Linked DNA regions of Homo sapiens: regions 2 and 3 are each linked to region 1. The links come from fine-mapping of genetic effects on gene expression. A gene starts in region 1. Each other region holds a variant in brackets. All regions are shown on one strand. Distances are between the middles of the regions.

Region 1 (2,756 bases):
ATTCTCCTGCCTCAGCTACCCAAGTAGCTGGGATTACAGGCATGCGCCACCACGCTCGGCTAATTTTGTATTTTTAGTAGAGACGGGGTTTCTCCATGTTGGTCAGGCTGGTCTCAAACTCCCAACCTCAGGTGATCCGCCGCCTCGGCCTCCCAAAGTGCTGGGATTACAGGCGTGAGCCACTGCCCGGCCGAGAATTGGAGGTTTTTGTTTTTGTTTTAGACGGAGTCTTGCTCTGTCGCCAGGCTGGAGTGCAGTGGCGCGATATCGGCTCACTGCAACGTCTGCCTCCCCAGTTCAAGCGATTCTCCTGCCTCAGCCTCCCGACTAGCTGCGACTGCAGGTGCGTGCCACCACGCCCGGCTACATTTTTTTTTGTATTTTTAGTAGAGACGGGATTTCACCGTGTTAGCCAGGATGGTCTGGTCTCGATCTCCTGACCTCGTGATCCGCCCACCTCCGCCTCCCAAAGTGCTGAGATTACAGGTGTGAGCCACTGCGCCCGGCATGAGAATTGGAGTTTTTAACATTCCATTTTAAGATGGGAGACACAAGTAATCTTTAAAGCTGACAGGAAGGATCCTGTAGGAAGGAAGAAGTTGGAGACACAGGCAAGAATGGGATGCCTAAGGATAGAGTTGCTAGATTTAGCAAACACAGGACGCCCAATTAAATTTGAATTTCAGAAAAACAACGAACAATTTTTCAGTGTGTGCCCCAAATATTGCTGGGTGTCTTGTATTTTATCTGTCAATTCCAAAATAGTTCATCTCTAGGTAAAAGGGTTATAGCCCCAGATGTCCTAGGAAGGAATCAGAGCTCTCAAGTCCTTTCCAGCTGTCCCAGTACAACACTCTGAAATGAATTCCCAGTTCTACCAGAACTGTTAACAAGTAGAGAAACTGCTTTGAATTTCAGCTTTTGCGGCTTTCCCATTCGCTCTAGGATGGCAACTGCGAAGAAAAATGCCGGACTAAAAGCTGTGGAAAAGTTCTAATTTGGAAAACCAGCCCGCAAGTGATGCAGAGGCTTTTGAACTGCAAAAGAGCTCTGGGCGTACAGGACAGTGAGTCACACGGTGCCTGGTCCGGGCCCAACCCTGGACACCAACACCACTCAACTCAAGGGCAGGTACCCGGCTGCTGCCAAGGGGTCAGCGGGAGCCTGCGCACTGCCACGGCCCCGCCCTCTTCCAACCTTTCATCCGGGTCTCGGGCAGGGGCGTGTCTGGGCAGAGGGGCGGGTGGTGGCGGAAAGGAAGGATGTCGTGGGAGACTGGAGAGTGGGGAGGGAAGCGGGAAGGGGCGGGGGCGGAGCAGGGGGCGTGGCGGAGCGGGAGCGCGGTCACGTGACGTGCGTGGCGACGTGTCGGCCATCTTGTGTTGTTGAGGCTGAGGACTGACTGGGGTTCTGAGACTCCCTGTCCCGGACCGCAGGTAACCAGCCGTTCCGTGTCGCTCCCCTGCCCGGCTCTGCTCCGCGCCCCGGCCCCGCCGCCGCGTCCCGGGCCGCCTGTGTCTCCGGTCCGCGTTCGCGCCCCTGCTCCTCCTGCCCGAGCTGGCCCGGCCGCATGGACACCCACAGGCCGCTCCGGCCGGCTTGGGCCGTCAGGCGACGGGACAGGTCAGGTGCAGGGCCGGAGGGAGCCTCCTCCTGGGCGAGGGGCGCTGAGGGCCCTGGCGCGTCACGGCCGCGAGGAGCCGAGAAGCCCCTAGGCCAGGGCCTCTTGGCATTGCGAGGGGAGCCGAACAAGGCAGGAGGGTTGTGGGGTGGGCAGTGTCAGGCCGGCTTGCTCGGAGCTGGAGGGCTCGCCTTCCTCTGCTTGCTTCTCCGCGCCAGACACCCGCCCAGTCTCGGGGTGGCCCGGTAACAGCTGCTGCGGCCAGACAGCTGCTCCTGCCGGCTCTCCTGTCCACACCTGGTCCCTGGGAGGTGCGCTCCTGCCTTCCCCACAGAGCATCTGGACGGAGGAGACTCCTTCCGTGGCGAGAGTACTGGGTCTGGACCAGGCCTGAGGCGAGGTGCAGCCACCATGATCGGAACCTTGGGACCGAGGCTGGGAAACTAGAGCCCATGGCAGCCTTGGGGACCCAAATGTTCACATCAGGTTGAAATGGGCATTATCCTTAAGTGTCAGTTTCCAAAAGCACTCTGAATACTTGTTTTGCGACTGAAACATAAATCAAGCGAACAGGGAATGGGGGCATGAAAGAAGCGGAGCGTATGACCGTGTTTGGGAAGCAATAACGTTGTTTTGCAGTTAATTATTTAGTACTGTGTTTTTTATTTTGTTGTTTTCGTTTTCCTGCAAGTCAAAGCACTTAAACACACGTAGTCTCTCTGTAAGAAAGGTAAGTATTCCAGTTTAACTTGCAAGAAATTGAGTATGGGGCTAGAAGCTGTGAACAGCTTCCTTTCTAGAGCTACATACATTGAATTAAGGCAGTTTTGATTCCCAATGTTGTGCCTGGGGAAGGTATTCTTTCTTTATATAGTATGTCCTTTTTAGAATCAAATGACTTCCTAGATTAGAAAAAAAAATTCTGTCATTCTTTCTGTACATTAATTTTGCTCCTTCTAATATTTGTAGCTTTGGCCTTATTTTGTCCATTTTGCCTAGAACACAAATACTTTCTCTTATTCATTGATGGTTTTACGTGTTTTACTAGTTGGTGTAGCAGTTTCTGATGTGCTCAAACTGGAATATGTACTTGGCTTTTACATCAGATGTTGACAACAGAAGAGGACACTAGAAA
Region 2 (2,756 bases), 170 kb after region 1:
CTAGCCTCATTATTATTAACCAGTTTTTTCTGTCATGTCTCTGGTCCTCAGTTTCATTGTCTGTTAGATGAGGTGGTTGGCCCAGATCACCTAAAGAACTTGGAACAAAAATCAATCCCTTAGCTCCATGTCCCAGAGTCTGTAATCTGGGGTGGGACCGTGCATTGGAAATTATTTTCAAATTCCCCAGAGTTCTTAATGGACAGCCTCAGTGGGGACCCACCAGCCTAGCCTAGCTCTGAGATTTCAGCTCCAGCGGCCTAGTGTATGTGTGTGAGTGTGAGGCATGTGTGCTGCAGTAAACTGCTGACATTTGGCTTCTTGATGGTGTGTGACGAGTAACTCTTTGCAGCTTTACTGAAGGAGACCCAAGTTGAAAGGCAAGCTTGGTGTGCCTTGCTTAGGGGGACAGTCATCTGCCTGGATTTTCTGACTTTGGTAACATGAAATGGAGCCTTAAGCAGGTCGGGGTCCTGTTGTGAAACAGAAACCACCCTAGATGAACGTGAAAAAGAAAAAGAATTGGTGTTTGAAGTGTTGGGAGCAACATGGGGGAAAGTTACTGAAAGGTTAGTTAATAACTGTAGGGAAACCACTAACACTGTGTCCCCTCGTCCCATCTATCAGTTGTTAAGTCCATTTTTAGGTGATACTAACTTCAAGTTCAGTCTCACCTAACTATTAGATATCTTAAGGAATACATTGTATTTATGTAAATTAGTAGGGGAAAGTAGAGAAAAGTTGGTTCGTATCTGCAAACGTGTATGTATATATAAGAAGGAATAAAATGCACATCGCTGCCACGGTTCTTGTTTCTGTCCCTGGTTGTGGAGGGTGTTGGCTTAAAGCCTTTACTAAGTTCCACTCCCCCTTTGCCAGCCCCTCATCTGTTGGGTGGCCTGAACCTTCATTTGTGAGCGCTCTGAGTCATTAGCAGTCCTGAGGTCCCTGGGTTGTGGTCATCTTCAATTAGTTTTTTCCCAAGGCCAGTTTTTCTTTTTAATGAAAATGTTCTAGGGAGTGATGGAAAATGTGAAAGCTAAAATAAATAAATAAATAAATAATAAAAATAAAAATAAAAAAGAATCAAACATACATAGAAGTAGACTAATGTAACAGACTCCTACCTAATATAACCTGGCTTCAACAATTATTGACATTTTGCCCATTTTGTTGTATTTATCCCACTTTGTTCTCTTAGAATATTTTAAACCAAATCCTAGATATGACGTCACTCATAAATATTTTAATATATATGATAAAAGAGGACATCTTAGAAAAAGAAAAACCCACAATGCCTTGTCACATTAACAACACATCAGGTCCATAGATGACTTTCTCAGATTGTCTCAAAGGTGTCTTTTTACAAAGTTTGAAAATCAAAACAATGTTCATTGCATTTGGTTGATATGCTTTAAGTCTCCTTTAGTCTTAACAGTTCTCCCTACAAAAAAGAGAAAAAGTTGAAAAACTGTATCATTTATTGATGGAACATTCCACATTCTCTGGATTTAGCAAGAAGTGTCTTAATGGTGTCAATTTCTTCATCCCCCC[C/A]CCACCTCGCCATGTTTTCTGTGAATTAGATCTACAGGCTTGACTAAAACCAGGTTCTCCCTTCCCCACCCCTCACAGGAATCCTTTGCTGGTGGCATGGTGTCCTTCCCGCTGTATCACAGTCACACTGTATTGTCTGGTTGTTCCAGTTTCACTGATGTCACAATTCATCAGTTCTGTTGCTATCAGGTTGATTCATCCATTATAAAAGTCCTCTTGCTCTTACATGTAGCAGTTTTAACATTCCTTGATGACAATTGCCTAGATATATAATTAGTTGAAAATTTGTGATTTTTGGTGGGGAGGGTTACTTTTATTTTGAAATAATTTGACTTTAAGTTGCAAGAACAGTACAAAGGACTTGCACATAACCTTCACCCAAGTTCTTTAGTTAACATTGGACCATACCTGCTTTATTTTCTCTCAATAACTATAATCTCATGATAAGTTTTTTTTTAATGTAAACCATTTGTGACTAAGTTGCATACATCATGTCCCTTTTTCCTGAACCCTGGTGTGTTTCCTCAAAATGAGGACATGCTCCCATATACCACAATACAGTTATCAAAATTAGGAAATTAACAATACAATACTGTTAATAGCCAAGCTTCATTCATATTTCATCAATGGTTCCACTAATTATTTTTTTTTTAAACAAGGTCTCAATCTGTCACCCAAGCTGGAGTGCAGTGGCCTGATCATAGCTTATTGCAGCCTTGAACTCCTGGGCTCCAGCCATCCTCGCCTCAGCCTCTTGAGTAGTTGGGACTATGGGCACATGCCACCATACCCAACTAATTATTACTATTTTTGGTAGGGACAGAGTCTCACCATGTTGCCCAGGTTGGTCTCGAATTCCTGGCCTCAAGCAGTTCTCACACCTTGGCCTCCCAAAGTGTTGGGATTATAGGCATGAGCCACTGCACCCAGGCCACTAATATTTTTAATAAAAGCAAAAAGGCACCGGATGTCATTCATGATCACTTTTTGTGTTTAGTTGTCATGTTTTTGAGTCTCCTTTAATCTGGAACAGGTCCTCAGTCTGTCTTAATCTTTTGCACCTTAACATTTTTTTTAGAGTGGAGGGCAATTGTTTTTTAGAATGTCCTCCATTTGGATTTGTCTGATATTTTCTCATGATTTGCTTGTGATTATGCAATTTTGACAGGAATACTACAGAGTGATGTTATGTCCTTAGTTCA
Region 3 (2,756 bases), 170 kb after region 1:
CACTCCCGGCCAGGATGGCATCCTGTCTGGCCCTGCGCATGGCGCTGCTGCTGGTCTCCGGGGTTCTGGCCCCTGCGGTGCTCACAGGTAAGAGGTGAAGGCCCTTGTCTCAGCCACCACTAGCCTCCCAGGGCCGATAACTACCTTGGGGCCAGATTCTTCAACGTTCACTGGGGAGGAAGCCCTCTCACAGGAGATGGGATGACTATTTGGGGTGATTCTGCGAAGAGCTCTTGTGAGGCCGGCTGGCAGCAGCTGTGTGGGATGGACGTCTCAGGAAATTGTTAGCAGGAGGGATAATGGCCTCTGGAGAAGGAGGACAACTTGGGGGGCAGGCCCAGGGATGTTTTGCTGTTGAGGGGGACATGGGTATTGCTCTAGCACTTTAAAATCTGAAGTCTCCCAGGTCTGGGAGGCAGCTGGGGCACCAGGCACAGGACAAGCAGCTGAGGGGCCAGAGGAGTGCAGAGCCTTGCTGATTACTTTGAAAAGCTTCCCTGCTGGTTTCTGCGACGTCCTTAGAGAATGAGGACCCAGGTACTGTCCCCATCTGGGAAAAGGCTCCAGAGAGGGAGAGAATACAAGGCCCAAGATCCCTCTGCAAAACGGTGTGGACCTCTGGACTGAGATCAGAGTGGCGGAGTCTGGGGTCCCACGAGAGGGAGGCCTCTGGCAGGCTCCCAAGGGCCCTGTGGAGAGGGGAAGACTGGCCCAGGCTGGCTTCAGAGCCTGAGAGACAAAGGGCGCAGACGGGTTACAGGTGGTCTTTGCTCCTTTTGGCCGGGAGTTGGACCAAAGGGCAGCTGGCTTCTGTGTCACAGTAGCGGGGTTCAGGGACCCTGCAGCCTGGGTCTTCTGGAGGGCGCCCGTGGATCTGTGAGAAAGGTGGACCGCAGTCATGAGAGCATGGCCTGGGGAGAGCTTCTGGGGGACGACAGGCCTGGGGAGGCCCCCTCGGCCACACCCTGGGAGGTCTGGGTGACAGCGAGGAGCACCGGAGACTATTGGCTTCTCCCTGGACGCCCAGGAAGAAGCTTGAGGCCAGGGTGTGCTCAGTCTTGACCGGGCGGTTTCTTAACCTCTCTGTGCCTTCTC[G/C]TCATCTGTAGGATGGTGACACAGCCACGCTCTGCCTCACTTGCAGGGGTCTGTGAGGCCTCGTGAGTTCAGACGTGCGGAGCTTTTGGGATGGGCCCCACATCCAGTTAGCGCGAATGTGGATTCTGTGGTCCGAGCCCCTCCCTGGCACAGGGTGGTCTCAACAGAACTCTACTTCCTCCCGCAAGCTGGGAGGGCGCCAGCCTCCCTTGTGGTGGAAGAGGCGCCAGCCTAGGCGAGCCATGCGGTGTTCCCAGGATGGGGGGAAGGGACTTAAAGGGGAAGGTGGCATCTTCCATGGCTTGGATCCTGGGGCTGTGATCTTTGCAGCCCCCTCACTGGGAAGAAGCTGCTTCTCCAGCCTGGTGGTCCGTGTGGGCCGAAGGGGAGGCCCTGGCTCCTGCCTGCTGGGCCTGGGCTGCCTGTGGCTCCTGCCCAGGTTCCTACTCCTGTGTGGCTGACCCTCCTGGCCCAGGCTGCCGGCCAGAGTTCCCAGGCCAGACTGTCCCTAATCATTGTAGGCGGGTGGGCTTCCTCTGCCACCACAGGATGCCTTGGGGACAGCCAGGACCTCACCTGGCCTCACTGCCCCACTTCCCTCCATGTGTCCTACCAAGAGTAGGCAGGCCCCCCGCAGGGGCCAGACCAGGCCTTCCCAACCCCGGAGTCTCTGGGGTTCTGGCTGTTGTTCTTGCGAGAGCGTTTGACCCCACCCCTGGGCTGGGAGCTCTGGACAGGTGTGTACACGGCCCTGGGCTCTGTGGGCTGGGGTCCTGTAGCAGACAGGAAGGGAAGGAGCGGCCTTGTGGGCTGAGGCCCAGGCCCCATCTGAGGCACAGGCCCTCCCTGTTGGGGGCCTGTGGCCTCAGCTACTGAGGTGGGAGCAGGCCGGGCTGAGCGGGCAGGAGGCCAGGGCAGGGATGAAAAGGCCCTTCATGGCCCACACAAAGGCTGTCTGTGAGCAGAGGCGCCTGGCCTCAGGGCCCTGTGGTCAGAACACACTTATTTACCAAAAGGCAGGGCGGCTGGGGCCAGTGGGGCTGGGAGAGAGCCCGTGGTGCCCAGGCTTGTGGCAGTGCCACCAGCCCCTGCTTCCCTGGGTCAGAGCGCGTAGCCACACCACATGGCTAATTCTGGTCAGTGGAGTCTGGGCCTCATTACCGCCATGGAACTTTCTTGGGGTCCTCCGTGCCCCCACCTCTTTGCCAACCTCACTTTCTGTCACCCTGGCCTATTCACTGTCCGCCTGGCACGCCGTGAGTTCCGTCCTCCACACCTTCGCTCCTGCCCCATCTCCCCCCTCCCCAGACAGGACTCCTGCTGGGAAACTGCTCTGCTCCCAGCTTCCCAGAAGGATGGATTTGGGGGAAGATGGGAATTGCCTCTCAGCTTTGCTTTCCCTTCTTACTGGAGTAAATTCTAGAAACATAGATGAGGATAAGAAGTGCCTCGGCCCCTCCCTGGCAGCGGCACCCCTTTTCCTGGTGGATCGGTGGCTGAGTGCAGGCTGTCATTCCGAGCCTATGTGTCTGCCACTTGGGCACCAGCCTAGGTTGGCAGGGAGCTGGTGGCTCCTGGGGCCCTGGCCGCTTGGGTGCAGATGGGTACTGGGCCAGCCTGTGAGGGATTCCTGTGGCAGCCAGCGGCTGCAGACCCATAGC

Evidence for each region. PIP is the estimated chance that this variant, and not a neighbour inherited with it, causes the effect.
Region 2: its variant is the best candidate, but not a certain one, in a credible set for the expression of GIGYF2 in whole blood (TOPMed, PIP 0.77).
Region 3: its variant is the best candidate, but not a certain one, in a credible set for the expression of GIGYF2 in whole blood (TOPMed, PIP 0.60).

Annotation. Positions count from the first base shown.
Region 1 is chr2:232,695,957-232,698,712 of GRCh38, forward strand. It overlaps GIGYF2 (GRB10 interacting GYF protein 2), which reads left to right and starts at 1,375. Exons shown (of 29, transcript NM_001103146.3): 1 at 1,375-1,436. RefSeq lists enhancers at 1,182-1,878, 1,879-2,573 and silencers at 1,228-1,317, 1,348-1,677.
Region 2 is chr2:232,862,537-232,865,292 of GRCh38, forward strand. No RefSeq gene overlaps it. Among named protein-coding and RNA genes, the nearest start is that of SNORC, 6.3 kb to the right of the region's middle. The variant C/A (reference allele first, on the strand shown) is at 1,555.
Region 3 is chr2:232,870,328-232,873,083 of GRCh38, forward strand. It overlaps SNORC (secondary ossification center associated regulator of chondrocyte maturation), which reads left to right. Exons shown (of 3, transcript NM_001394206.1): 1 at 1-87. The coding sequence starts at 15. Among named protein-coding and RNA genes, the nearest start is that of SNORC, 1.4 kb to the left of the region's middle. RefSeq lists an enhancer at 1,867-2,632. The variant G/C (reference allele first, on the strand shown) is at 1,096.